2 linked regions of the Homo sapiens genome follow. The protein of the gene in region 1 interacts with the protein of each later gene in a biochemical or structural test. Each region holds a gene or a part of one and is shown in the gene's direction. Other genes may lie near its edges. The genes, in order: ABL2 and CAT.

Evidence for each region.
Region 2: the proteins of ABL2 (region 1) and CAT form a complex in vitro, tested with the Homo sapiens proteins (one study listed by BioGRID).

Annotation. Positions count from the first base shown.
Region 1 is NC_000001.11:179,211,030-179,227,773, reverse strand, and holds part of ABL2 (tyrosine-protein kinase ABL2), read left to right. Parts: intron 1-15,765; exon of another isoform or gene 15,766-16,744. UniProt on the Homo sapiens protein: Non-receptor tyrosine-protein kinase that plays an ABL1-overlapping role in key processes linked to cell growth and survival such as cytoskeleton remodeling in response to extracellular stimuli, cell motility and adhesion and receptor endocytosis.
Region 2 is NC_000011.10:34,452,087-34,465,767, forward strand, and holds part of CAT (catalase), read left to right. Parts: coding exon 1-121; intron 122-1,003; coding exon 1,004-1,108; intron 1,109-1,714; coding exon 1,715-1,840; intron 1,841-3,924; coding exon 3,925-4,116; intron 4,117-4,578; coding exon 4,579-4,731; intron 4,732-9,164; coding exon 9,165-9,303; intron 9,304-12,018; coding exon 12,019-12,149; intron 12,150-13,681. UniProt on the Homo sapiens protein: Catalyzes the degradation of hydrogen peroxide (H(2)O(2)) generated by peroxisomal oxidases to water and oxygen, thereby protecting cells from the toxic effects of hydrogen peroxide.

The DNA of each region.
Region 1 (16,744 bases):
GCCACATGTCTCCTATTGAAGATGTGCTTGAGTGTCTCTTTCGGGTATATGAACACTTTATGAAGGTGATATATGAGCTAATCTTTATTAAAATCACTTCCTAAAACACAGGATGGAAGAATGGATTAGTAGTTTACAGGGAAGAAATCATCCAAGTAAGCTTCACTTTGTGGGAAGTGTTACTATGCATTAAACTTGGCCTAGTAGGCAATGGTGATCCTCTTGCTTTACTATCTTATTCGGTATGTAAGATTTTCCAAGAAAGAGGAAGTCATGAAGAATGGAATAGGAAGACATTTTGAGGATTTGGATCTATGGAGAGGGAGAACAATTTGGGTAGAAGAAACAACTTGAACGGGAACATGGGAATAGATATAATTTGTTGATGGGCTAGTGAGGAGACAGCTGTCAGGAATGAAGCATCATTATGAGTTGGAAGAAAAAGATCATAGAGCAAAAATTGGAAGAGTCAAGTTCTGGTTCTGGCTCCACCTGCCTGGGTGATTTTAGTCACCATCTTTGGGTTTCTTTATCTGTAAAGTGAGGAGGTTGGACTGGATGATCTCTAAGATACTTTCTGGTTTTAAGATTTTATGATTCTAATTAAGAAGCAGTAGAAAGAAAATTTTGATAGGCTGGATGGGACTGGGTTATGGAAAATCTGGCAGAGAAGTTTATATCCATTTACCTGATTGGCTAGTCTTTACCTGAAAGACTGGCCTTGAGTGGTGGCAGTGGAAATGGGAGGAGTAATTTCAAGGGTCCTTTCATTCATTCAACAAACAAGGGTTTTTTTTGAGCACCTGTTATGTACTGGATTGTGGGAATGTTGCTGTGAACATAACAGAGTCCCTGCCCTTTGGAACTTAAAGGACTTTATGATTTGATAGAGGATGAAAGAAGAGAGATCACTTTGGAGTATTTGTTAAGGGCATGAACTCTGGACCCATTTTTCCTGGATTTGAAACCTTGCTTGGCTGCTTATGAGCTTTGTGACCTGGGACAAGTTATTTAACTTTTTGTGTCTTGGACTCTTCATTTGTAAAGTGGTGATAATAATAGTACCTAGTATTAAATGAATAGTGGCTGGGCACATAGTATGAGCTAAATGTGTGTAGCTGCTGCCATTACTAATACTACTGTTATTATTAAAAACAGGAGTAATTCGGCCAGGTGCGGTGGCTCACGCCTGTAATCCCAGCACTGTGGGAGGCCGAGGTGGGCAGATCATGAGGTCAGGAGTTCGAGACCAGCCTGAGCAACATGGTGAAACCTCGTCTGTACTAAAAATAGAAAAATTAGCTGGGCATGGTGGCACGCGCCTGTAGTCCTAGCTACTCAGGAGGCTGAGACAGGAGAATCGCTTGAACCCGGGAGGTGGAGGTTGCAGTGAGCCAAGATCGCGCCACTCCAGCCTGGGTGACAGAGCGAGACTCTGTCTCAAAAAAAAAAAAAAAAAAAAAGTAGGGATAATTCAAAGATGACACCAGGATTTAGAACCTGGCTAACTGGGATGATGAAGATTCTATTGACAAGTTTGGAAGTTAGAAGCTGATTGAAAAAATGGGAATAGGTCGAGTTTATTGCCAAAGACTAGTATGAAAAGAAAGGAATTAGCAAATAATATAGGAAACAAAGGTGCAGTGAGTACTGTTTTTTAGACAGATGGGTTTAAAAAGTTTTTTTCTGTACATCATAGTTTCTTTTTTTTTTTTTTTTTTTTTTTTTTTGAGGCGGAGTCTCACTCTGTCGCCCAGGCTGGAGTGCAGTGGCGCGATCTCGGCTCACTGCAAGCTCCGCCTCCCGGGTTCACGCCATTCTCCTGCCTCAGCCTCCCGAGCAGCTGGGACTACAGGCACCTGCCACCACGCCCGGCTAATTTTTTTTTGTATTTTTAGTAGAGACAGGGTTTCACCGTGTTAGCCAAGATGGTCTTGATCTCCTGACCTCATGATCCGCCCTCTTCGGCCTCCCAAAGTGCTGGGATTACAGGCATGAGCCACCGCTTCCGGCCACGTCATAGTTTCTTAACCTCGGCGGCATTGATATTTTGGGCTGGCTAATTCTGTGTTTTGGGGGGCTGTCCTGTGCATTGTAGGATGTTTAGCAGCATCCCTGGACTCTACCCACTAGATGCCAGTAGCACCTTCTTTTTGCCCCTTACTTGTTATAAAAATGCCTCCAGACATTGTTAAATCTCTTGGGGGGCAGAATTGCCCCTAGTTGAGGACACCACTTAGAAATGTGATAGATTCTGAATTGAATGAATGAATGAATGAATTAGATTCGAAAGCTTCTCAGTGGATGTATCATTTGACCTTTACATGGTAAATGTAGGTGCTCGAATCTAGTGTACAAATTACTGTCTTGAGTTTGCCATATTGAGGTATTAGCACATAATTTCATATATGAATGTTAGGTCTGTTAGACTCTTGGGTTTACATGTAGGTTTTAATATAAGCCAAATAATACATTTAGTTAATCAGTAAAAAGGTACATACATTATGGAAATGGTTTATCAGAGTCCAGGACTTTTCTTTCTTTAGCTAAAATGGTCATTTTTTATCGTTAATAATATGTGGGTAAGCTGTGATAATAATTTGCCTTGCCAAAAGTGATTTTTGTGAATGTAATTTAGAAGGAACAAAAATAATAGAGCCATTTTTGGTATGAAAGGAGTGAGTGCTGTGTGACTTTTCTGAGATCTGCTATTTTTTTTGTCAACTCTTTTATTTTATGTTTTATTTTAGAGAAAGGTCTTGCTCTGCCACCCAGGCTGGAGTGCAGTGCTGCGATCGTAGATCGCTGCAGCCTTAAACTCCTGGACTCAAGCAATCCTCCTGCCTCAGCCTCCCGAGGAGCTGAGACTACAGGCACACGCCATCACACCTGGGTAATTTTGTGTTTTTTTTTTTTTTTTTGTAGAGACGGAGGTCTCACTATGTTGCTCAGGCTGGTCTCAAACTCCTAGGCTCAGGTGATACTCTGCCTCGGCCTCCCAAAGTGCTGGGATTATAGGCGTGAGCCACTGCGAGAGGCAAGCTCTGCTATTAAACCTTTCTGGTGAGCTGATGTTTCATGACTAATAATCTAGGGTTGAATACTTACTTGCTGTTGAATATCTCACATACCTTTTAACAGCTGAATGATTTTACTTTAGCTTCCCTCTCTCATTTTCTAAAAATTCTATTAAAAATTAACTTTAGGCTGGGCGTGGTGGCTCACACCTATAATCCCAGCACTTTGGGAGGCCGACGTGGGCAGATCACCTGAGGTCAGGAGTTCGAGATCAGCCTGGCCAACATGGTGAAACCCTGTCTCTACTAAAAAAATACAAAAATTAGCCAGGTGTGGTGGCGGGCACCTATAGTCCCAGCTACTCAGGAGGCTGAGACAGGAGAATCCCCTGAACCCCGGAGGCGGAGTTTGCAGTGAGCCGAGATCGCGCACCTGCACTCCAGCCTGGGCGACAGAGCAAGACTCCGTCTCCAAAAAAACCAACAAACAAAAACCCTTACATTATGAAGTTTGGAATAACAAAAATTTTTCCTTAAATCAAACTCATTATTTTAAGTGATCTGATTTATTTATTTATTTTTTATTTTGGATCTGTAGTTTTTTTTTTTTTTTTTTTTTTTTGTAGTGAGTAGGGTCTCACTCTCTTGCCCAGGCTGGAGTGCATTGGCGAGATCATGGCTCACTGCAGCCTTGACCTCCCAGACTCAAGTGATCCTCTCACCTCTCAGCCTCCTGAATACCTGGGACTATAGGTGCACGCCACCATGCCTTTCTATTTTTTTTTTTTTTTTGTAGAGACAGAGTTTTGCCATGTTGCCCATGGTGGTTTTGAACTCCTGGGCTCAAGTGATCTGCCTGCCTTGCCCTCCCAAAGTCCTGAGATTACAGGTGTGAGCCACCGCACCCGGCCAGTAGTTCATGTTTTAATCTTTGTGGAATGAAGGCTGTTGGCACCCCAGGTTGAAAACGATGCTATGGAAAGCACAGGAAGGCTGTTGTGAGGGAATTTTAATTGTGGTGACTTAATATAAGAACTAAACTTCATTTTTTATTTTTATTTATTTTTCTTTTTTTCTTGAGTGCCAATCCTGCAGACTAAACTTTTAAAAAAAAATCAGCTGTTAGATTTTTATTAATCTCCAAATCTGTGTAAGTTATAGATGTGTAGTTGGGGTCCATATTTTTAGCAAAGTAATAAGTTGTGGTACAGATTCTGTTCTCATAGCCCACTTGGCAGTAAAATTCCAAGTAAAGTGATGAAGTCTGAAGTTTCTCTGTAAGGGTCTTCAGCCTGCTTTATTCGATAGTTTATTTATTTACTTAGGTGGTTTTTTTTTTTTTTTGAGACAGGGTCTTGCTCTGTTGCCTAGGCTGGAGTGCTGTGGCATGATGATAGCTCACTGCAGCCTCAAACTCCTGGCTGAAGCCATTCCTGACTCAGCCTTCTGGGTAGCTGGGACTATAGGTGCGTGCTACCATGCCTGGCTAATTTTTAAATTTTTCTGTAGAGATGGGGTCTTGCTGTACTGGGCCAGGCTGGTCTTAAATTCCTAGGCTCAAGTGATTCTCCCACCTTGGCCTCCCAAAGTGCTGGGATTACAGACATGAGGCCCTGCATCTGGACTTTTTTTTTTTTTTTTTTTTTTGAGAGGGAGCCTTGCTCTGTCTCCCAGCCTGGAGTGCAGTGGCGCGATCTTGGCTCACTGCAACCTCCTCCTCCTGGGTTCAAGCAATTCACCTGCCTCAGCCTCCCGAGTAGCTGGGATTACAGGCGGCTGCCACCACACCTGGCTAATTTTTGTATTTTAGTAGAGATGGGGATTCACCATGTTGGTCACACTTGTCTCGAACTCCTGGCCTCAAATGATCCGCCCACCTCAGCCTCTCAAAGTGTTAGGATTACAGGCGTGAGCCACTGTGCCCGGCCTGTTTTTTTTTTGTTGTTGTTGTTATTTTAAAGGTATTTTAAATATATTCCTCTGAATATCATCTTTAAAGGATCTGACATGATTTTTGTCAAAATAAATCATAAGGTGTAACCAGTTTGTGGGTTCCTGGTGAGTTTCAGGCCAGGCGCGGTGGCTCATGCTGGTAATCCCAGTACTTTGGGAGGCCGAGGTGGGTGGATGACGAGATCAGGAGATCGAGACCATCCTGGCCAACATGGTGAAACCCTGTCTCTGCTAAAAATACAAAAATTAGCTGGGCATGGTGGCGCGCACCTATAATCCCACCTACTCAAGAGGCTGAGGCAGGAGAATCGCTTGATCCTGGGAGGCAGAGGTTGCAGTGAGCCGAGATCGTGCTACTGTACTCCACCCTGGGCAACAGGAGCAAAACCCTGTCTCAAAAAAAAAAATTAGCCAGGCATGGTGGCGGGCACCTGTAATCCCAGCTACTCAGGAGGCTGAGGCTGTAGAATCACTTGAACCTAGGAGGCGGAGGTTGCAGTGAGCTGAGATCACGCCACTGCACTCCAGCCTGAGGGACAGGGCGAAGACTCTGTCTCAAAAGAAAAAAAAGTTAAGTGTAAGCCAGTACACTGACCTCTCCATGAACTTTTCACAGTAGGAACTTTAACACTTTCCGCAGAGTATCCTGTTCTTCTAGGCTTTTCATAGAATGCGAAGTTAATGGCATGTGATGTTCCATAGCATAATCTGCTAAAAAGTGATCATCTCCTTGGAAGAAAAGCCGTGGGCTGCAATCACACATCCAAATTGACAGACATCTGAATGGATTCTATATAGAAAGAAAAGATTCGTGTCTTCTGGAATATGAATGTCCACTTTTAATAAATTCAAACAGATCCTGACATAAACATCATGGGTTTTACGTGACCCATCATTTCATGGATCCTTGGCACCAAATCTTTGGGCATTGTATAACCCAACCCACTGCAGTAGGGAGGAAACACCTTGAAAGGACACTCCTGGTATGAAATACGTTTTTTTTTTTTTTTGGTAAAATCCTCTATGGGAATAATTATCAATTAGGGGATAACCTGTGAAAAACTTCTCTGAGTGGTTTAAGTTTAAAAGATACTACACTAAATTGCCAGTATTGATGAACACATAAGTGTCTGTTGTCATGATGTAGTTGGCAATGGGGCAAAACTCAGTTACCCACCTGAATGCCATAATAGGTTGTTTTTGTTGTTTGTTTGAGACGGAGTCTTGCTCTGTCACCCAGGCTGGAGTGCAGTGGTGCGATCTTGGCTCACTGCAGCCTCCACCTCCTGGGCTCAAGCAATTCTTGTGCCTCAGCCTCCCAAGTAGCTGGGATTACAGGCACACGTCACCATGCCTGGCTAATTTTTGTATTTTCAGTACAGATGGGTTTTCACCATATTGGCCTGGCTGGTCTCAAACTCCTGGCCTCAAGTAATTCACCTGCCTTGACCTCCCAACGTGCTGGGACTACAAATGTGAGCCACTGTGCCTGGCCAGTTTTCAAGGTCAGGTTTTTGTATGTGTCTAAAAAATCTCGTTGGATTACATCACTATAAAGAAGATGTTAATCGTCCGAGGACAGTGCTAACAGTTTGTCTTCTCTTTTAGCCCGTTGGCCTACTAAGAAAAATGTGAGAACCTCATATCGCCATCAAGACTTTTTTCACCCCAAGTAACTCTAATGGCCTGTCTGGCTTTCACATCTGAGGGGTGGGAGGTCACTAGGATAACCAGAATTGGATTTTGATCAGAGCAGTTTGAATGCTCTCAAAATGTGAAGTGAAAGCCTCATCTGTAAATTGGCTCATACTTGTAAAAGTACATCCAGTCTACATATTCTGTCACATTGTAGTGGGGAAGGCTGAGAGGTACCACATCAGGAGGAGAGTCAGGAGTGGCAGCAGCAGGAGACCCCATGTGAGAGATCTCAGTGGGAAGGGCAGTCTGGAGAGCCAGGGCCATCCACAGCAGCTCAGAAGCTTGCGAACTGCAAGTTCTTCTTGATTGATTTCTTCTGAGTGAAAAGACCTTCAGTTTCACCAGTTGAACATTCAGCAGTATGTAGCTGTCAGAAATAATGCTACTGAAAACCAGACTTTCAGACTGGCTTAAAATCCTGCCATATACTGCTTATAAAACACATACCTGTAGAATTTCAGCAGAGATTAAAGCACTAGCTGAAGTTTGTTTTCTGTATTCCATGCTTTAGTCAAAACACTCAAGATTTGCTGTGAACTACTCCATAAACAGAAAAAAAGACATGGTTTGGTAATTTCTTCCTTGGTAGATTTTCCTGACAAAGTGACCATCGCCTAAACAAGGCACTGTCCTGTGCGGCACATACCCAGCTCACAAGTGGCAGGCAGCTGGTGCTCAACCTGCTTTAAACGGAAAACAAAAACCAAACAAGAAAAACCAGCATCTCCCCACCATTGTATGTTTTTATTCCTCTTTACTTCAGTCTCTTTCAAAATAGGGAATGATAATGTTTGTGTAGTTTTTAGAGCTTTTGAAGAAGACCTTTTATGTCTTTCATCTCACTTGACCTTTACAACTACTCTGAAATAGGTGAAGCAGGTATTAATCTTCCCATTTTGTAGATGAAGAGTTTAGAAAATTAAGTGACTTCTTGAGGTTACATAGCTGTTAAATGATAGAGCTGGGACTGATAGTTTTGTCTCCAAGTCTTGCCATAATGTGGAGATTTAGAGAATGTGGGTTTTAAAATCAGTTATAATTGGATATAAATCTTGCTTTGTGTCTGACATTGGTACATGGTTTATCCCTCACAACAGGTTGTTGAAATAATTAAGTGATAAAATTGTACGAGACTCTTAAGTGCCAGGCACTGTGGTGCTCAATAAATATCAGTTTTATTGTCATTATTTACCTCAAGATGATTGTGAAGATTATATGAGTTGTATGTGAAAATGTTTTGTAAACCTAAGCACTGCTATTGTTATCATTGTGATGGCATGCCAAAGTGTAGAATTGCCTTAGCATTTATATTTATTACTTCATTTTCTCTTCTTATTAAGCTACTCTTATTAGAGGACTTTCAGAAAGCAGTAAAAGGTAAGGGAATTTTGGGGATCTGAAATCACAGGAGAATCTGAAATCACTTTAGGTCTACCTTCCTTGTAAGGTAAGTGATATCCTCTCTAGACCATTTGTCTTTGTCTTAGGGACTGGGTATCAGTATATGTAGTGCCTGGTTCTTGTAGACATCTTTTTCTTCCATCAAAGAACTTGAACCAGAAACACTGGCCAATGCAAATTTAAAGTTGATAGAGACTTCATTCTAAGTTGGCCCATTTGTTTGCTGGTTAATAGTTAATGACTTTTTTAAATGACTTTGTTGTAACCTTCTTCATCTGACATCCTTTAAGACCTTTTTTTTTCTTCTTCTCTGTGTTATTTTTACCTCTGGATGTAAAGTTTCTTCTTAAAGGCTTGTTTAGGCCAGGCATGGTAGCTCACGTCTGTAATCCCAGCACTTTGGGAGGCCGAAGCAGGTGGATTGCTTTAAGCTCAGGAGTTCAAGACCAGCCTAGGCAACGTGGCGAAACCCTGTCTCTACAAAAAATAGAAAACCTAGCCAGGCGTGCTAGTGCACACATGTAGTCCCAGCTACTGGGGAGGCTAAGGTGAGAGGATCACTTGAGGCCAGGAGGTTGAGGCTGCAGTGAGCCATAATCACGTCGCTGCACTCCATTCTGGGCGACAGAATGAGACCCTGTCTCAAAAAGAAAACTTGTTTAGTGTGATTATCTTCTTGAAGTTGTGAGTCAGATGGGCTTTTTCTTAATGTGGCACTGCACATACAGAGATTTCAAAATACTTAAGAACCTTTTCCATGTTAACAGATGTCTTCTGGACGAGGTAAATATGTAGCTACTTCAAATCATATAGAACAGTTCTGAAACTTGAGCGTGGAGAGCTTGTTAAAGCAGATTGCTGGGTCCCACCTCCAGGGTTTCTGATTTAGGGCTGAGGAGGAGCTCAAGAATTTGCATTTCTGGCAAATTTTCAGGTGTTACAGGTGCTGCTGGTTGGGGACCATGCTTTGAGAATCTCCTGCTCATGTGAGATTAAGAAGAGTACTTGGCCTGGTGTGGTGGCTCACGCCTGTAATCCTAGTGCTTTGGGAAGCCAAGGCAGGTGGATCACAAGGTCAGGAGATCAAGACCATCCTCCTGGCCTACATGGTGAAACCCCATCTCTACTAAAGATACAAAAATTAGCTGGGCGTGGTGGCGTACGCCTGTAGTCCCAGCTACTCGGGAGGCTGAGGCAGGAGAATTGCTTGAACCAGGGAGGCAGAGGCTGCAGTGAGCCGAGATCGTACCACTGCACTCCAGCCTGGGTGACAGAGCGAGACTGTCTCAAAAAAAGAAAAGAAAAGAGTACTTGATCAGAGGTGATTGAATGACTGTCAGAAAACAGGATGTAATGTACTAACTCTCTTCAAAACTGGTTCAGAAATTCATTTGTTCCTAGCCTATTAGTGTCCACATGCAAGTCACCACAGTCTTATACCATTTTTTTGGTGGTTTATCTCTAAAAGTTCGTACATTAGAGGTCTCTTGAGAGACACATTTTTGAAAAAAATCTGGAGTTATCAGGGAAAGGGGAAGTAGAAAACAGTTCTGCTGACTCATTCTTGAGCAGATTGGGCTACAGTTCCTGGAAGAATTGGGTAATGAAATAATTGCCATTTATTGAGGGCTGTGTGCCAGGCATGTTCTAAGTACTCAATATCTGTTTTTTCTTTTAAAACTCATAAAACCCTCGTTGCTCAAATTAAAAAATATTAGAGACCAAAGAAGATGGGATGTCTGTTTGTGATTCTATAGTTTTGGTATATGCTGGTGCCTAGTTACCTTTTAGAATATGTGTGTATGTAGTTATACATATGTATGTATATATATAATACAAAGATTTTTAGGTATTTTTTACCCCATCTGTCTTGACCAGTGATGAGGTTTTCAGACTGGTAGACCAGGGTTAGATTTGTATAGTATGTGGCTATGGATTGAGTCTTAGATATATATGATGGTCTAATGAAGGAGAGGTGGGAACTCACCATACCATTTGGAATCTCATGGTAATGTTGAACTCCTGTCTTAATCTTTAGGCTTAGTGTTACTAATATTTCTTTTCTTTTTTTTTTTTTTTGAGGTGGAGTCTTGCTCTGTTGCCCAGGCTGGAGTGCAATGGCACGATCGAGGCTCACTGCAACCTCCACCCACTGGGTTCAAACGGTTCTCCTGCCTCAGCCTCCCGAGTAGCTGGGACCACAGGTGCATGCCATCACACTCGGCTAATTTTTGTGTTTTTAGTAGAGATGGGGTTTCACCATGTTGGCCAGGCTAGTCTTGAACTCCTGACCTCAGGTGACTCATCCACCTTGGCCTCCCAAAGTGCTGGGATTACAGGTGTGAGCCACCACACCTGACTGAGCCACAGGCCGAGCGGCTCTTTTTTTTTGAGATGGAGTCTGGCTCTGTCACCCAGGCTGGAGTGCAATGGTGCCATCTTGGCTCACTGCAACCTCGGCCTCTTGGGTTCAACCTCGGCCTTCTGAGTTCAAGCGATTTTCCTGCTTCAGCCTCCTGTGTAGCTGGGATTACAGGTGCACGCCACCACACCCAGCTAATTTTTGTATTTTTAGTAGAGACGGTTTCACCACGTTGGCCAGGCTGGTCTTGAACTCCTGACCTCAAGTGATCCGCCTGCCTTGGCCTCCCAAAGTGTTGGTATTACAGGCGTGAGCTCCCACGCCTGGCCTCCAATCATCTTATATTAGAATCTATGTAACTGGCCGGGTGAGGTGGCTCATGCCTGCAATCCCAGCACTATGGGTGGCCAGGGCAGGCAGATCATGAGGTCAGGACTTCAAGACCAGCCTGGCCAATGTGGTGAAACCCCACCTCTACTAAAAATACAAAAATTAGCCGGGCATGGTGGCGTGCGCCTGTAGTTGCAGCTACTCGGGAGGCTGAGGCAGAAGAATTGCTTGAACCCGGGAGGTGGAGGTTGCAGGCCCAGATCACGCCACTGCAGTCCAGCCAAAAAAAAAAAAGAATCTGTGTAACCACATGATATATTTAGCTTATTATTGCAATATGCAACTTATAAAGACCTTTTCCCCCAGGTGATAATGGCAGGAGAATTTTTAAAAAATTTTAGCTTAACACTCCAGAGCATTTTCTATTTTTTTATTCATTTATTCTGTACTAATTGCCTATGTTGATGGCTCTGAGAGAATTTTTAGATACAATTTAGACAGAACTGCTATCTAAAAGAATGTTGCTGATCAAATAGATGTTGATGAACATCCTTACGAAACAACTAAAAAGAGATGTGTGTGTCTGTGTTTGTGAGGATATTTTGTACAAAAACTCTTGGTTGCCTTTTTGGATTGAGTGCATAATTTCAGTATGTAAATTTGTTGTCATTATACTAATTAGAACATTTTGTCAGTATTTTCAAATGAAATTCACTCAAATTCATGGATAAATACACATTAAATATATTACTATCCAACGTTTAAACTTAGTTGCTTAAAAATATGAAAACAGCACTTAGCTTTTTTCCCACTTGCTGGTTGCTGTAAATGTGCTGATTCTGCCGTGGTAGAACTGCCGGCTTCTCTATAGTGAACTCTGCCATTATTGGCTTTTGATCCAGCAGAACGCTAAAGCTGGGCAGGCCCAGGCCATTTGTATTCTCGGGTTTGCTTTCTAGGGAGAAGAAGTGTTCAAAAACCTTTCACTTCATGTGGACAAGGTCAAAAAAATATTCTGGAGCTTAGTATAATACATAATATGTACACATGTAATTTTGTTAACATGTTTCTCTCTGTGTGCTAATTCCAGCAAATTAAAAAAACAGTACTGAGTTAGGACTGAAGATTACCACTTAGCATTTTGTTTCTAGGTAATTGCTAAGAAAACATTAAAAAAAACTGACAATACTAACAAGTACAATTTGTATCACTCATCTGTTCCTTATAGGAAAGAAAGGTTGATACCTGAAGGTTTTTGTTACAGTAGCTTTCTTTTACTCATTTTGAAATTGGCACTTTTCTTTTCTTTTTTTTTTTTGAGGCAGAGTCTGGCTCTGTTGCCCAGGCTGGAGTGCAGTGGCATGATCTCAGCTCACTACAACCTCTGCCTCCTGAGTAGCTGGGATTACAGGCATGTGCCACCACGCCCAGCTGATTTTTGTATTTTTAGTAGAGAAAGGGTTGTTAGCCAGGCTGGTTTCGAACTCCAGGCCTCAAGTGATCCACCCACCTTTGCCTCCCAAAGTGCTGGGATTACAGGCGTGAGCCACAGTGCCTGGCCATGCATTTTTCAGTTGCATAAAAATATACAAAGGTATCTCAAGGTTAAAAAAATAATAATTCAGAAGCATATAGACTAGACATGAAAGTCCCCTTTGACATTCTTGGCCCAATACATATTCCCTTATTAGAAGAAACTACTGTTTGTGGTTCGATAGGTGTTTCCCACACCCAGCCATTTCAGAACTTGCTGTGTATTTACATATATATGAGTATATATATTAACACTTCTCTTGCCGTTTCATAAATGGCATTATACTGTATGAATTTTCTCCCCAATTTTTTTTTTTTTGGAGACTGAGTCTTATTCTGTTGCCTAGGCTGGAGTGCAGTGGTATGATCTCGGCTCATTGCAACCTCCACCTCCTGGGTTCAAGCGATTCTCCTGCCTCAGCCTCCCTAGTAGCTGGGACTACAGGCGCCCGCCACCACACCCGGCTAATTTTCGTATTTTTAGTAGAGAAGGAGTTTCACCATGTTAGCCAGTCTGGTCTCAAACTCCTGACCTCAGGCAATCTGTCTGCCTTGGCCTCTCCAAGTGCTGGGATTACAGGCATGGGCTACTGTGCCCGACCCACAATTTTTGTGTGTGTGTTTATTTATCTGGAAGGTCTTTCTATTCCAGTATTTGTAGATTTCTCATCCTTTTTGACAGCTTTATAGTGTCCCATGCTTTAGCCATATATTTAACCACTTTCTTATTGATGAATACTTGTTTATAAGAATATTTAAATATCTTCTCCATCTTTCCTGTGTTTTTTCTTTATGTTTGTAATTTGAATCCATCCGAAGGGTATATATATTTGAGCTTGGAACAAACAATGTTTTTCCATTGTATTAATTTGTGAATAGTCCATCAATTCTCCACTGATTTGAAAAGCCATATTTATCATATATTCTCATATATATATATATATATATATATATATATATGTCATTTTAAAACTGTTGTTCCATTGATCTTTGTCTCCTCCTGCACATTGTTAATATACTATTTTAATTATTGTAAGCTTATATAGTGTGTATGTGTATGTGGTTAGCTCCCCAATCATTATGTTGTTCTTAAAATTTTATTTAGATGTTGCATCTTATATCTTCCAAAGATCTTTAGGATTATGTTGTTAAGATTTAGGAGATTTTGATGGTCATATCAAATTATAGGTTAATTTGGGGGTGAATTGATGTTGCATTATTGTGTTTTTATGGCCAAGAACATGACATCCCTTTGCCAGTCCAGGCAGATCTTTTTTTGCCCCTCAGTAAAATCTTTTTCATTTTCTTAATCTTGTTTTTGGACATTACTTGGTAGGTTTATTAGTGGGCATTTTATGATTTTTGTTGTTAAGTATAATCTTTCCTAATTGCTTATTGCTAATGTATAGGAAGCCTTGATTTTGTATGTCCATCTTGAGTCTAGGTTTGGTTGCCTTACTTGTATTGCATCTAATAACTTTGTACTGATATTTTTATTTTATTAAAACTGATATTTCTAGATAATTTTTTTCTTTTAAGAGATAGGGTCTTACTCTGTCACCCAGGTTGGAGTGCAGTAGTAGCATGATCATAGCTCACTGCAGCCTCCTGGGCTCAAACAATCCTCCTGCCTATAGCATCCCAATGTACTGGGATTACAGGTGTGAGCCACCACGCCTGGACTCTTTTAGTTATTTTTACCACAGTAATACATGCAGGCAGTTTTAGAAGTCAAAGAATATGACAAGATTTAAAATGGAAAAAAAATTAGCAGCACCCATCCATTTCCTCCCTATATTGGTACTGTTGAGGATGGCAGCTAGTAGCCACTGTGGCTCTTGAGCACTTGAAATGTCCTTTGTCCTAACTGAGAAGTATTGGCCAGGAGTGGTGGCTCACACCTGTAATCCTAGCAGTTTGGAAGGCTGAGGTGGGAGGATCACCTGAGCCCAGGAGTTTGAGACCAGCCTGGGCAATATAGTGAGACCCTTTCTGTATTTAAAAATAAATAGGCTGGGCACGGTGGCTCATGCCTGTAATCCCATCTCTCAGGGAGGCAGAGGCGGGAGGATAGCTTGAGCCCAGGAGTTTGAGACCTGCCTTGGGCAACATAGCAAGACTCTGTTCTCCACGAAAAGGAAGAAAAAAAAAGACAAAAATAAAAATAAGCGTAAAAATAAATAAATAAATACAAATAAGCTAATTGAGAAGTACTGTAATAAAATACACATTATGTTTCAAAACTCAGTATGGAAAAAATGAATATAAAGTACTGCATTAATTTTTTTATATTGATTACATGTTTTAAATAATATTTTAGATAGACATATATATAAAAATTAATTTTTTGAATTTAAATTTTTGATGTAGTTACTAGAAAAAGTAAAATGGCATTTGTAGCTTGCATTATATTTCTTTTTTTTTTTTTTTTTTGAGACGGAGTTTCACCCCTGTTGCTCAGGCTGGATTGCAATGGTGTGATCTTGGCTCACTGCAACCTCCGCCTCCCAGGTTCAAGCGATTCTCCTGCCTCAGCCTCCCAAGTAGCTGAGATTACAGGCTTGTGCCACCACGCCTGGCTAATTTTGTATTTTTAGTAGAGACAGGGTTTCTCCATGTTGGTCAGGCTGGTCTTGAGCTCCAGATCTCAGGTGATCCTCTTGCCTCGGCCTCCCAAAGTGCTGGGATTATAGGCATGAGCCACCACGCCCAGCCAGCTTGCATTGTATTTCTTTCTTTTTTTTTTGAGACGGAGTTTTGCCCTTGTTGCTCAGGCTGGAGTGCAATGGCACGATCTTGGCTCACCACAACCTCCGCCTCCCGAGTTCAAGCAATTCTCCTGCCTCAGCCTCCCGCGTAGCTGGGATTACAGGCATTTGCCACCATGCCTGGCTAATTTTGTTATTTGTAGTAGAGACAGGGTTTCTCCATGTTGGTCAGGCTGGTCTCGAACTCCCGACCTCAGGTGATCCACCTGCCTTGGCCTCCCAAAGTGCTGTGATTACAGGTGTGAGCCACCATGCCCTGCCCAGCTTGCATTATATTTCTAATGGACATTGCTGCTTTAGATGGTAAGACCTGTGAGAACAGGAACTTGGTCTTGTTCACCCTTGTAGTCCCTGTACCTTTAATGGTGCCAGGCACTCAGTAGTATTTAAATGATTGATATATTCAGCAAGTAGGATGATGTGGTTTGGCTCTGTGTCCCCACCCAAATCTCACCTTGAATTGTAATAATCCCCACGTGTCAAGGGTAGAACCAGGTGGAGATGATTGAATCATGGAGGCAGTTTCTCCCATGCTGTTCTCCTGATGGTAAGTTCTCACCATGTCTGATAGTTTTATAAGGGGCTTTCCCCTTCACTTGGCTGTTCTCTCTCCTGCTGCCCTGTGAAGAGGTGCCTTCCACCATGATTTCAAGTTTCCTGAGGCCTCCCCAGACATGTAGAACTGGGAGTCAGTTAAACCTCTTTCCTTTATAAATTATGCAGTCTCTGGTATTTCTTCACAGTAGCGTGAGAATGGACAAATACATAAGGAGAGAGTATTTTCCTCATTGTACACTCAGAGATATTGTACCTGGCATGTTACAGTGCAGATTTTATTCCACGGAGGTGCTTTGAACTAATCTGAGTTTTCTTTGCAGTTATTGATTGGTAAACAGTTATTTAAATTTTTTTTTTTTTTTCGAGAAGGATTCTTGCTCTGTCACCCAGGCTGTGGTGTGATCTTGGCTCACTGCAACCTCCATCACCCGGGTTCGCAGTGTTGAACAGGCTGGTCTCGAACTCCTGACCTCAAGTGATCCACTTGCCTCGGCCTTCCAAAATGCTAGGATTACAGGCATGAGCCACAATGCCTGGCCTAAATTTGGTTTTATTCTCCTGTATATGTTTTTCCTTTGATTACTGTATTTTTAGTTTAATTGCACTTATAAAAATTTTATTTTTATTTTTATTTTTTGAGACGGGATCTCACTGTGTTGCTCAGGCTGAAGTGCGGTGGTACAGGCTCACTGCAGCCTTGACCTCCTAGGCTCAAGTGATTCTCCCACCTCAGCCCCCTGAATAGCTGGGACTATAGGCACATACCACCCCACCTGGTTAAATTAAAAAAAAAATTTTTTTAGGGATTACATCTCTTTTGTTGCCCAGGCAGATTTCAGACTCCTGGGCTCAAAGCAATTCTCCCGCCTCAGCCTCCCAAAGTGCTGGGATAACAGATGTGAGCCAGCAGGTCCAGCCTAATTGCACTTTTAAGTCTTAGACTGAAAACTTTATGAAATCCTATCTTCATCACTATATGTCTTGTTTTCTGTTTTATTTTGTTCTTTCATTGACCCTGATATTTGGAAAAATTCTAATGCTTTTATAAGTTCTTTGATCTAATTGTTTCAAGTCTTCTGTTTCCTGAAATTATTAACTATCTTTAAAGAGAAAAGTCATCTTGG
Region 2 (13,681 bases), on another chromosome or scaffold:
GGGTTCAGCTGACACAGTTCGGGACCCTCGTGGGTTTGCAGTGAAATTTTACACAGAAGATGGTAACTGGGATCTCGTTGGAAATAACACCCCCATTTTCTTCATCAGGGATCCCATATTGGTAGGTAATAGAGTATTTTGCACTCAACAAATGTTTGTTGACTTAAATTGATTTCAAATAGGTTGGCATTTGAGGAGAAGCCGTGGGAAAGGCAGAAAGAAAAGAATGCGAGTTGTCTGGACTACTTTTTTCAACACATTTTTCTGTATTTAATAAGATAAAGTAAGAACAGTTACCATTGGTCTTAGATTTGTCATTTTAAGACAGATTGACTTAATGGGAAGTGAGTTTAGTTTTCCTTGCAGAGCATCGAAGATTAGTAAAAAGAGGGACTTTACTTTGGAAACAAGCAGAGGGTGTCTCTACATGCTCTGAGTCAGCAGGAGGGGGTGTGTGTGCGTGCGCGCATGCGGGAGGGTGGGTATATTTTTTCCGTGAAGAAATACTATAAATCCCAGCACTTTGGGAGGCCAAGGCAGGCAGATCACTGGAGTCCATGAGTTCGAGACCAGCCTGGGCAACATGGCAAAACCATATCTCTGCAAAAAAATACAAAAATTAGCCAAGTGTGGTGGCTCATGCCTATAGTCCCAGCTACTTGGGAGGCTGAGGTGGGAGATTTGCTTGAGCCCAGGAGGTCAAAGCTGCAGTGAGCTGTGATCATGCCATTGCAATCAGCCTGGGTGACAGAGTGAGACCCTGTCTTAAAAAAAAAAAAAAAGAAAAGACTATAGTTTTGAGTATATTTGAAATACTTTAGGGTATCTTAGATGCTAGTTGTCTATGCTGAGTAAATTTCATATTATGGTTTGGCAGTTTAAAATTCTAGGATTGTATTTAGAATTATAATCCATAAACCTAGTAATAGGCATATATAATGAAAGACACCATAATTCCTGTAAACTTAGTTTTTGGATTTTTTTCTCTCTTTTTTCTATTTAGTTTCCATCTTTTATCCACAGCCAAAAGAGAAATCCTCAGACACATCTGAAGGATCCGGACATGGTCTGGGACTTCTGGAGCCTACGTCCTGAGTCTCTGCATCAGGTATGAACCCTTTTTTGCCATTGTATTATATCACCTGGGATGCAGTGTTTAATTATGCCTCTTCATAAAGTGTCTCTCCAGTTTTGGCTATTTTATTGGAATCAGCTTCCTCAGATTTCTTGATCGTGAAGAGTTTTGTAGTAACTGGCTTTACTAATCATCCCCCATTCATCGGCCTTAAATGATGATGATGATGATGATAGATAGCTAGCAACATTGTCAGTTGATATTTAGCAGTAGTAAGGATGAAAGTCTGTAGTGTAAGGTAAAGCTCTGTATTAAGGAAGTGGGGGGAAAGTAGTACCAAACAAATTTGCTATGCAAATAAATTTTGAATAACAAATTAGGCCAGTTTTCAGGTTGTTTTGGCTTTCCTTCATAGAATTTTGAGTCATAGTATTAGTGATTTGCATATCATTTTGATTTAAAATTTTTCTGTTTGTTATTTTCTACAAGTGAAATAATAATGGTAACCCTTCCCATGGGAAATTGGCTAGTATGTTTTATGTCATTAAGGGACTTTCTGGAAACTAAGGAATATCTTAAAAATCAAGGATGTTTTGATTTAAATGAAAACATTTTAGGCTTTATATTTCTGTTCTTTAGGTTTCTTTCTTGTTCAGTGATCGGGGGATTCCAGATGGACATCGCCACATGAATGGATATGGATCACATACTTTCAAGCTGGTTAATGCAAATGGGGAGGCAGTTTATTGCAAATTCCATTATAAGGTATGTGTTACCTTTGGGGCAGAGGGTACAAGGCTCCTACCGCATACCTCCTTATTTTTCCTGAAGGATTGAGCAAAGATTAAGGCTTCTCCCACTTTTCCCTCACCTCCATCCCCAAAGTTGGGAAGTATTGATCTCATTGATCAGTACTGATTTTGTTGGCTACCATCTGAGGACCTTGGAGCGTATCCCAATCTCATTATCACTTCCAACATCCAATAGTGTCTTTCCAATATCATTTCTTTTAACTTTTTAAGTCATCCATCTATTTACTTAGCATTTATTGAGGTTTTATTATGAACAAGGCATATAAGTAAAATCAATTACAAATGTCAGAAAACAAAATTATACTGTTTTTAAAAATTTGCATTCATATAGCCAGATCAAATCAGTTACATCTGGGGAGGGTTTTGAGAATGTTTTAATCAACTGAAATATTATAAAGGGCCCTCTTTTGGTATAAGCATGGCATTTGTTACAATGAGCAATATTGCCAGTGAACCCTGGCATGTTAGTGATATTCCCAGAGAACTCCCAAGGGCTAGTCAGAAACAAGCCTGAGAACCTCTGTTTCCAAATACTGCTGCTAAGATAAGCAGAAAGAAGTGGGCTCGTGACCAGTACTGGATAATCTCTCTCTTAGTGACATCCAAAAGCCCTATTTTCTTCTATCCTGCTTTCTTCTTTATCTGAACAATTTAATGTAGGTATATCAAACAGGAAAACTATCACCTCTTTTTATATTCATAACTTGGATCTATAATATTTGACAAGGAAAAATTTTATGAAACAGTTGACCCATTGGCTTGTAATTGCCAAAAGGGTCAATGTAGTATTACTTAGAATAAGACTAAGTGGTTGTATCTAGGACAGCCAGTCTAGTTGGTAGCCTTGGAGTTATGCCAGCCTGAACTCAAATTTCTACTCTCCTAGATAATTGTGGCCTTGGGCATAGTATTAAAAGTTCTTTGAGCTCCAGTTCTTTTCACTGTGAAGTTGGCATAATATTACCAGCTATACAAGTCCTGGAAAGATTGGATTGCTTGTGGGTCTTTTATCCTAGGGCCCTAAGGTAGCCTGAGATCTACATGGATTCATCAGTCTGGATTATTCTGACCTAAGATTATTCTTTTCTAAACCTAAAGGATTCAGTTAAAATCAGAAAGGTATTGCAGTGTTATTGTACTACTTAATATATTAGCTCTTTGGGCGATCTGTACATGGTGACCTTCATTGTTTTAATCCTGAAGGTGGCTTTACTTCTTGTTCAGTAGTAAGAGTTCAAACCTTTTCACTGATGAGACAGTTGGGATTTCTGTGGTAGAAATAGACCAGCGTTCAGAGTTGATTTTTGCTAAGGAAATCTTTCTGCGGCACTTGGCTTGTTGGGAGGTCTTTGAGAATAAGATCACATGGTCAGTCCATCAAAGAACAGTATGATATGATAACAGGAGCACTTATGAAGTGACACAGCTTCTCTGGGTTTTAATGTCTTGCTTGGAAAGTCAGAATATTAATTTTGCCTGCTCATAGTCAGAGAACTAGTTCCAGGTGGCTGTACTGAAGTTCTTTTCAACTCTATGAGCTATGATTCTATGATTTATTAAAAAAAAAAAAAAAAGGAATAGGACAGGGGTGAAGGGATACTGGCCGAGCACAGTCTCAGTAATTGATTTGAGCTGTCATGAAATGGAATTAAAACATTACTTCATGATAAAAGGCAAGTAGTCCTTTAATTTTATTAATCTTTTGCCTACTTTTAAGTATATTTTGATTTTTCTGATTTGGAAAGTAACATGAGTGTAAAAATTCAAATAATAGAATACATAAAGGGAAAGATAGGACTGATTTTAAATATGAAATGTGTAGATGGGATTCCCTTGACATTTAAAAGTATTGGGATAATCAAGTAGAATTTCTTGTTGATAAATTCATTAGTATCAGATTTGAACAATAGAAGTATTGTTGTAAAGAAAGTTCATTCTTTGGGCAGTGTTACTCATAATCCTTCAATGAATTACTGATGAAATTTTGATAACTTTGACAATAAGTTTCCATTGGAGCTTCTTTCTTTCATTTTGTAGACTGACCAGGGCATCAAAAACCTTTCTGTTGAAGATGCGGCGAGACTTTCCCAGGAAGATCCTGACTATGGCATCCGGGATCTTTTTAACGCCATTGCCACAGGAAAGTACCCCTCCTGGACTTTTTACATCCAGGTCATGACATTTAATCAGGCAGAAACTTTTCCATTTAATCCATTCGATCTCACCAAGGTGAGTCAGTAAACAACTATATTGTTTTCTTTTTTAAGTCTCTTCTTACCTAATTAGAAAAAAAATCTAGTCAAACAATTATAATAATGGGGAAGTCATATACAAAATACAGAGGGTACCACTTCAGAGTGTCCTAAGCTGTGAATGAGTGCTTACCAGCATCTTACTTCCACGTTCCTGTTTGTCATTTCATTGAGTATGTGTATGTGGCTTCATATATTGTTATTAACAGGGAACAGATTATGAAAAGCTGATGTACTTTTTCCTGGGGAAACTGTCAGTATTTACCACTTACTATTGTGAAAGATTTAACTAAGGCACTCATCTTAAATTCTTATGTTTTATTGGATTTAAAAATTATTTTCATTGGCTTGATTGTATTTGAAATCTGGTATTTTTGTGGGTAGCTTTGATTTCCTTCAGTTGATTGCCTGGTAATTGTGAATATGACATCATTTTCAGGTTTGGCCTCACAAGGACTACCCTCTCATCCCAGTTGGTAAACTGGTCTTAAACCGGAATCCAGTTAATTACTTTGCTGAGGTTGAACAGATAGCCTTCGACCCAAGCAACATGCCACCTGGCATTGAGGCCAGTCCTGACAAAATGCTTCAGGTGAGCCTGGTGGATTGAGATGTTCTGAGGCAGGTGTCCATGTGAGCATGCACACACAAAATATGCAGCTTGGCATGATCTTTATGTGAGGAATTAACAAGAACATTACTTAAACTTTAATCTGGGTGCTTGGTTACCTTGTGGGATTCACTGAGGTGAACTATTCTTCAATGAGCATTCCTTGAGTAAACCAAGTATAAACAAAAGTCCATGGTAAGATCCCTACATATGTGAAGACAAGAATACTTACTCTCTTAATTAAAAAAAAAAGACATAATAGAAATACCTTAAGTATTGATAGAGTGAAGCATGGTTTGTTCTGTCTGTAGCTGAAGTATGGTTAATTAATTATAATACCTTGGTAAGCCTAACTTTATTTTCTTGTTCTTTTTTTTTTTTTTTTTTTTTTTTTTGTGACAGAGTCTTGCTCTGTCGCCCAGGCTGGAGTGCAGTGGCATGATCTCGGCTCACTGCAACCTCCGCCTCCCAGGTTCAAGCGATCCTCCTGCCTCAGCCTCTTGATTAGCTACAGGCGCCCGCCACCATGCCCAGCTAATTTTTGTATTTTTAGTAGAGACGGGGTTTCACCCTGTTGGCCAGGCTGGTCTCAAACTCCTGACCTCAAGTGATCTGCCTGCCTCCGCCTCCCAAAGTGCTGGATTATAGGCGTGAGCCACCGTGGCTGGCCTCATTTTCTGTTTCATGGTGATGCTTGAATTTTTCCATTTGTAAAAAGAGATCTAGGGATGATCTTTATGAACTACATGTATGCTGCCAGTGATAAAAGCAGTGGATTAACCATTCACCTTGCTAATGTTAAGCCATCAGTATGTTTTACATCACTTTTTAATATCTCTTTCAAGAGTACCAAGAGTGAAAAATTGTACTTTGGATCAGAATCAGTAAGAAAATAATTGGCTTAATAATTACTGTATAAATCAATCTTTTGTGGTTTTAGACTGTGACCTTGAAACAAAGGTTAAAGATTGTACCCTAAATCAGACCACAGCGACTGAAGGTTACTTCTTATGTAAGTATCTGATTCCAGTTCAGGTTTCAGTCTGCATGGAGGACAAGCTAAGATTCCGTTTTTAAAAAATAACTTTTTTGCTTATGACATTGGGGAACATCTGAGGCTTTTATAGAAAGTAAGTTTTTCATTAGTTTTTAGTCCAATTCAACTGTTACAAATTGAGTACCTGTCTGTTGTGTATGGTGGACTGTCTTGGGTGCCATAATGTAAGGCAGAATGCCATGGTGATCCAGAAAGCAAAATTTTGTCTGATAGGAGGTCAGCCACGAAGTTTCATGAACGAGGTAGCATTTGAGATTGTTTTGAAGAATAGATAGGATTTTGATTTTTAGTAGGTAAAATGCGGCAGGAGAAGGACATGAGTATAGGCACAAAGGTGGGACATGTTAGGTGTGTTGAAACTATAAACAGTCACTCTCTCCTGAATGAGAAGAATAGAGTTTGGGTAGGTTCATTGAGTATATGTCAGAGGGGACCTTAAATGCTTGAGTAGGAGTGAAAAGCTTTCTTCAGTTTTGAGAAGTGTGGTCTGGGATATATTGAGTAGAATCACTCCTCTTGGTGATAAATAGAAAAAGCGACAACTAGGGATTGGGAATAGCAAAAGGAAAGTCAGGCAGTTCTCAGAGGAAAAGCAGAAGTTTGCATTGAAACCAGGGAGTAGAGGAAGCCAAAACAAGGTAATCCTGGGCCCTAAAACTCCCTACCTGGTGGCTGAACTGTGAGAGGATGAGGCTAATGGGATTTGCCAAGGCATGAAATTGTCATGGGCAGAGCAGAGGCTGCATAACCCTGGTTACCCAGGGAGGGAACGGATTGAGGAATACAAGGTTACCTAAACTCTTTTCACAAGAATCCAAGTCACCATGGGTCTCTGGAACCACAGTGGGACCGTGAGGCAGTCAGCAGCACTGAGTCATATAATTTGAAGAACAATGAAGATTTGAATGGAGAACTAGGCCCCCGGGAAAAGGACTGCAAAGCAAATACGTATTCTCTACATTCCTAAGAAAGCAAATGTCTAAGGCAGCTATTCAAACAGTGGGGAAGAGAGTTCTGAAAAAGGATGACAAGTAGAAAGTAATATAATTTCTGTTAGTATTAATTTTAGTTCTGGCAAATATATCTATTTTAAATTCAGTGTACTCTTTATAGGTTGTTTTTTTTTTAAATGAGTTTTAGAAACTGTTCGAAAGAGCTTTCATAAGTTTGTCGAGTTATTGTTTCTAGCCTAGCTTTCCCCCATCCTTCTTAGGTCATTTAGCTATCAGTTCCAATACCATGGAGCCTGTGAGGAGCCATACAGTTGGGGAAGGACTGTTGTACTCATTTAGCCATTTGGTGACCATTAAGGAATGATTTGAGATTTTTTGAGTAGGTGAGTAGGGAATATGTAGATTGTCTTGTTGGACAGGAAGTGGAAAGCCAGTTAGGGGGGCTTTGGGGTTATTCCTGCTGAGAGCTCATGAGTATTGTAGCCTAGGCAGTGGCGGTTGATATATTAATGGGCAGTGTTTACAGGTGCCTTTTAACAAGGTCATGTTATTAAGTTTTATAACTTTATCCAAAGTGGTGAGCCACACCATGGTGAAATGGACAAATAATATAATACAAGTCATAGAGAGACTGTCCTGTCCCCTGAGTACCTGAGGACACAGGTGCAGCCTTTCTTGCTCTCATTCTCTGCATTTTGCCAAGAGTTGGAGAAGTTGGGCCGGTTGCTTGGGTGGGAAAGGCTTTCCCACTCACGCAGGTCCAGCAAGGGAGTTCAGGCACAGGGCCTTGGGGAAGGCCTAGATTCAAGCTGGTGTCAGGGTATGGCCTCACTGTGCCCATTTCCCAACCTTTGTTGGTCTCCACCCATAGGTGGGGTAAGGTTGCCTGATAAACACAGGGTGACACAAAATCAGAATTAGGTGATAGAGGCTACATCCAGGAGCTGCCCATGGCAGGATTGTATCTCCTATCCTGTTGATGGAGTCAAGAGCACAACTTTTTGAGCCAAAGGAGACAACCAGCTTCCAACCTATAGCTGAGTTTTGGTCATGGCCGCATGGCTAGTCATCTAAATATGACCTTAGGCTATTTGAAATGATGATAAGAGGGAGTCATTCAGCCAAAAGCAAAATATTGACAGAACACTGGGACTGGATTAAGTCTGTTGGTATCAGTGATTTGGAACAAAGTTATTGCTTAAGTTGCCCTATTCAATTTGGTTTTTATTTTGCCTCATAGAATTAGGGATATAAAAATACTTTTAAGGTTCAAGGCCAATGATAAATTCAATGGAAGAAAAATTGCTCATAGAAAAGGAGTATGAATAATGAGAATAGTTCAATAATTAGATATTAAGATTAATGCAGAATTTATCATAAAGCTTTTGTTTGAGCATTAACTGAAAGAAATTTCAAGATGCTTGCCATCTTTGCCTTGATTAACATGGAACATAATTTAATCTTAGATTGATTACCTTTGGCATTGTAGGGCTTTCATTTTGAACCACAGATTTTTTGTTATTGTTGTTTATATCTAGAAAGTCTCAGAGCTCAAAGTGTTTCTGAGATAATTCAGAAGGCAGCATGGGAGTGGGCGGTACTTTTTTTTTTTTTTTTTTTTTTTTTCTGATCTTGCTTTGTTGCCCAGGCTGGATTGCAGTGACACGATTGCAGCTCACTGCTGCCTCAATCCCCTGGGCCAAGCAGTCCTCCCACTTCAGCCTGTTGGAGTAGCTGGGACTACAGGCACATGCCACCATGCTCGGCTAATGTTTTAATTTTTTTTTTTGTAGAGACAGGTCTCGCTGTGTTGCCCAGGCTGGTCTCAAACTCCTGGGCCCAAGCGATCCTCTCACCTTGGCCTTCCAGAGTGCTGGGATTATAATAGGCATGGGCCACTGTGCCCAGTTGGAAGTGCTTATTTGAAGAATTTCCCATGCTGTTGGTTTTGTAGAAATGTGTTGCTTTTTGTAAAGAGCAAATGATTGGTTCCTTCCCTGGAGTGGGGGAATGAGGAGGAATAGAATTAATTCAATATTTCAGTTAGTTAACGTTCTAGCACATTTATTTTATAATGCAATACTTCCTTGGGAATAGGAAGTAATACTGTATAAGACAAGACACTAACTTGTTATGCAGAAGGAAAAAAAAAAGATATTATTACCAAAAACAGATGTGAAGATTTATGGTTGGCCAGAGGGCCTGGGAAATTCAGAACTGTTCAGTTAGGGAGAACTCGTTTCATAAGAGTAGAGGCTTCACTCTTAAGTAGCGGGAAAGGCAGAATTTTGTGGTAACCATGTACAGAGTGCTTTGTACTTCAAATTTCAGAATGAAGTTTACAGCCCATTCCTATGTTATATGTTACTGCCCCTAGTCAGTGTCTATTGTATTTATTACTGCAGGGCCGCCTTTTTGCCTATCCTGACACTCACCGCCATCGCCTGGGACCCAATTATCTTCATATACCTGTGAACTGTCCCTACCGTGCTCGAGTGGCCAACTACCAGCGTGACGGCCCGATGTGCATGCAGGACAATCAGGGTAGGCCTAAAGACGTTGGGCTCCCCCTGCGTGGGCAGAGGGCACGTGGAGCAGATGGGCGGGAGGCCAGGCCAGTGGCTCTCAAGCTGGCCCCGCAGGACCTCCTGCTTGGTAAAGGTGCTCCCCAGGTGCTGCTAACTGGGCGCTTTTTTGCCCAGCAGTGAAGATTTAGGCTGCCTGAGGACTCTCCATGCTTTTTATCTATTTTATATATTTTATTGAGCATTTCCACCTCAGATGTTACTTGTATCCAGTAGTTAAAAGCAGGGAGAAAGATCTTTCACACTGGCTAGAGTACAGTAACATCCAGCTTGGGAGTTAGGTTTTGAAGACACTTCACCAAAATGGACAATTCCTTAACTCACTGTGAAATCACCAAGACTTAGACCCTTGGAAGTGCGAAAGCCAAGAGTTGGAGTCTTCTGTTTCTCTTTGCAGTTCTGCTGTGGCCCTGGAGGAGCAGGTCTAGCTAGAATTTGGAGGGGAGCTAGAATTAGCAGGGAAGGCTGGGGAGAAGAGAGTAGGGGAGGCAGAGCAAGTCAAAGGATTCCCCTCCCTTCATTTTTTCCTAAGTGAATAAAGTTAGGTGAATCAACTTACCACTTTTTGTTTTTTGGAACTCATTTATCAAACTTAGGATCTTTTTCTTTTAACTACTTTTTTTTTGGTGTCGTATACAAACAGCCTCTGGTTCTAATTACTTTTTCTAATAAGTCAAGCAGAATGCTTGATTAAAGTTTTTTCCTTTTACTATTCCACAGTTTAATATAGATCTTAGTTATTTTCTTTTCCCATTTAGGACACGTGTTTTAGTAATATAGACTGCATGCATTGATCCCTTTAGAAATTTTACTGATGATTTATATTTATAGCCACAGATGTCTATATTCAAACAAAGTTTATTTTTCTATGATAAAAATAATACAAGTGTCCTAAAGAAAATTTGGAATATATAGGAAAAAGAAGAAAAAAGAAAAATTCCCATATAGTCCCAACACCCAAAGGTCATAGCTATTACATTTTGCTATATTTATTTATCTATTTATTTATTTTTTAGACAGAGTCTCACTCTGTTGCCCAGGCTGGAGTGCAGTGCATGATCTTGGCTCACTGCAGCCTCTGCCTCTGGGTTCAAGAGATTCTCATGCCTCAGCCTCCCGAGTAGCTGGAAGTATAGGAGTGTGCCACCACGCCAGCTAATTTTTGTATTTTTAGTAGAGACAGGGTTTCATTGGCCAGGCTGGTCCTGAACTCTTGACCTCAGGTGACCCACCCACTTTGGCCCCCCAAAGTGCTGAGATTACAGGCATGAGCCACCGCGCCTGGCTTGATTGTAAAAGTAGAGCATTTGGGCTGTGACCCTGAAGCTCAGTGAAAGAGCTTAATTGTTCCTGTGGTCAGTGCTTTAAAGACAACTACCACTTTGAGTAAAGGTCAGGGCTCATTTGGAAGTAGGATTTTAAAAATTAACTAGGCACATTTCAAAGAGCTAGTTCTTAATGAAGAAAACACTGTGATGGCTGGTTTTTGGAGCATTTTGCTTTTCATGTAGATGTGACTGATCTGTTGAATTTGTTGAGTGAATAATTGGGCTCTATAATAGTATGGTGTTCTTCCTTCCCCTACACACACACTTGGTGTCTTGATGAATGTCATACATAGGCACCTCTTGATTATCCACTGTGGATAATCTATTACGGCAGTGAGCTGGCTAAAATTCCAACCCCAGATTGGTTTGCTCAAACCACTTAATATGTTTCTGGGCCACTCCTGTTTAGGCAGTGTGTGCTCGGGTAATGAAAGCTTCTGCTAATGTCAGCCAAAGCATAGTTGAGAAAATAAATATGCTAAAACGAAAAAAAAGCCTTATAATTTATTTCAAAAGTCATAGAAAATATTTTGATTGTATTTGTCACTGTTTCTTATAAGTCCAGATAAGTAAGTGCTGATATACAATTACCACATTTTAAAAAATTCTTTGTTTATTGGTCTGTGGAGGGTATGAAAGTGAAGCTACAATGGAACAAAGTCATCATTGTCAGTAAAGGAGAGATACCCTGAGAATCCTAAAAACACTTTACGGAATAGCAAAGTAGAGTTCTGTAATGGAAATACTGTATATGCTGGGCTGGAGGAGACAAAAAACCCAGAGTTCCAACCCCATATCTACCACTGGCTACCGTGTGACCTTGCAGCAGTCAGGTCCCATCACAGAGCTCCATGCTTGTGTCTGTAGATTCAAGGAGCAGAACCAGAACTTTCAGATTTCCCTCAAGAATTTTGTGATGCAGTGTTTGAATTGAGCCCAAGTCCAAATGACACAATTTTTCAAGTCAATTTTGAAATGTGTCTTTGAGCCTCATCCCTATATGGTGGCCAAATCAAGCCTGTATAAACTTCTACATGTGCTGTACCCCTCAGAAGACTTGATAGATGAGACCCTTTGAAGTGTCAAAAGGGACTTTGAGATTCATTCATAAAGTGCGGCAGCCTGTGCAAGCATTTAGCAGATGGCAGCGTTCCCTAAGAATCTTCATACTACCTGTAGCTAAATGCGGGAAATTAAAAATAATATGTGTGCGTTGTGTTTATATCTGTGTATGTGTACGTGTGTATTTGATTACCACTTGAATTTATTTCTCATCACAGTGATTATTTGCAGACTTACTTGACTTTTCTTATTCCTAAGTGCATCTGGGTGGTTTTGTTTTGAAGGTGGTGCTCCAAATTACTACCCCAACAGCTTTGGTGCTCCGGAACAACAGCCTTCTGCCCTGGAGCACAGCATCCAATATTCTGGAGAAGTGCGGAGATTCAACACTGCCAATGATGATAACGTTACTCAGGTAATGACTTCTCTTTATCTGCTATGGAAGTCACCTGCTAATTCTCCTTGTCAATGCCTGCATAATCCCCCTCCCTGCAAATGCCCCAACTGTCTGATGTATCTTAAATTGAATTCAAGGAAGACTCATCTGTAATAGTAAATTGGGCCCCTTACTGGGTGGAGTTGAAGGGTTATATTACTCTGGTCTTTTGCCTCAAAGCATGCAGACTCCGTCTCAGTTTCTTCAAACTTTATTGAAGGGATATGGGGAGGGGGCATTGGGGAAACAGTTATCTCATGGGAATTTAAGAAATGAGCATGTACAGCTTACGTGGAGACAAATCTAAGAATCTGGGCAGGACAGTCCAGGTTCAAGGACTAGAACTAGAGATCCAAAATAGCTCCAGGAGCCTCGGCCACAAGAGTGTGGGCGTTTCCACTGCAGGGCTCGTCCTTCACGTGGCTTATTCTCCATCTGTCTGCTTCTGCTTGCCAATGCTAATTGATTATTTTTACCACAGCTTCCTGTTTTCTCCTATCTGCGTCAGAGCTTCTGTTTTATCATGGTTGTGGCTCTTCCACAACAATGGAAAACTCTCCTTTATGGCGTCTTTCTCCATTATTACTTTTTTTTTTTGGACCACCTTTTACTCCTTCTCTCAACATGTCTATCTCTAGATTCTAGAGAGATGGAATCCTATTGACTTGGCTAATCTTTTCACCCCAGGTTGCACCATTGGCCTTGGTCAGGCTCTAGTTAACCGCCCCAGGGCAAATGCTCATCCTCTTTCCAGTTGCCTATGGCTGCCCTAAGAGCTGTTTCAGCACATGCTATGAAGGAGGCCCTTGGACTTGGAAGGGCTGTAGGTGGGCAGCTGCCTCCTTAATGTGTCCAGTGCAACTTATACCACACACAATAAAATAATAAAGTTAAAGGTATAGTTGTTCTAGAGCTCTGTTTGAGCAGTTAGTGTTAAACTTAGTATTTAAATTAGATTAGAACCTATTTCTAGTTTCTCAGTTTGTGAATGTGGGTTCCAAGTAAAAAATACTTATACATGAATTAATTCGCTGTGAGGATATCTTTGCTTGAAAAGCATTTACGTATATACATATATACGTATATATAAAAAAGAAATTACATTATTGTGGGATATAAACCATTTTTAGATGAGCTTAAAACATTTCCTGCATACCTTTTATGTAACTGCATTATTTTTGGTGATGCAGATGACACCAAGTATATTACAGTACATTCCCTGCCTCTCAAAGAATTTTGCCTATGTGAGGTCAATACAGGTATTAAACCAGCTCATACAACCCCTGCAAAAATTAATGAGGCTATTGCTTACACATGAAAATTTATTATGTGCTCATTCTTATTGAGAGAATTTCTTATCACTATATAGGATATAGTGTGGTTTTTAAGTAATCACAATACTATTGTTATAGATTCATAGCATAATTCTGTGATGATGTATCACATGGGAAATACATAAGAAGGTCCAGATTTATTCTCTTAAAAATGATTCACTTGGGCTTGCATCTGTC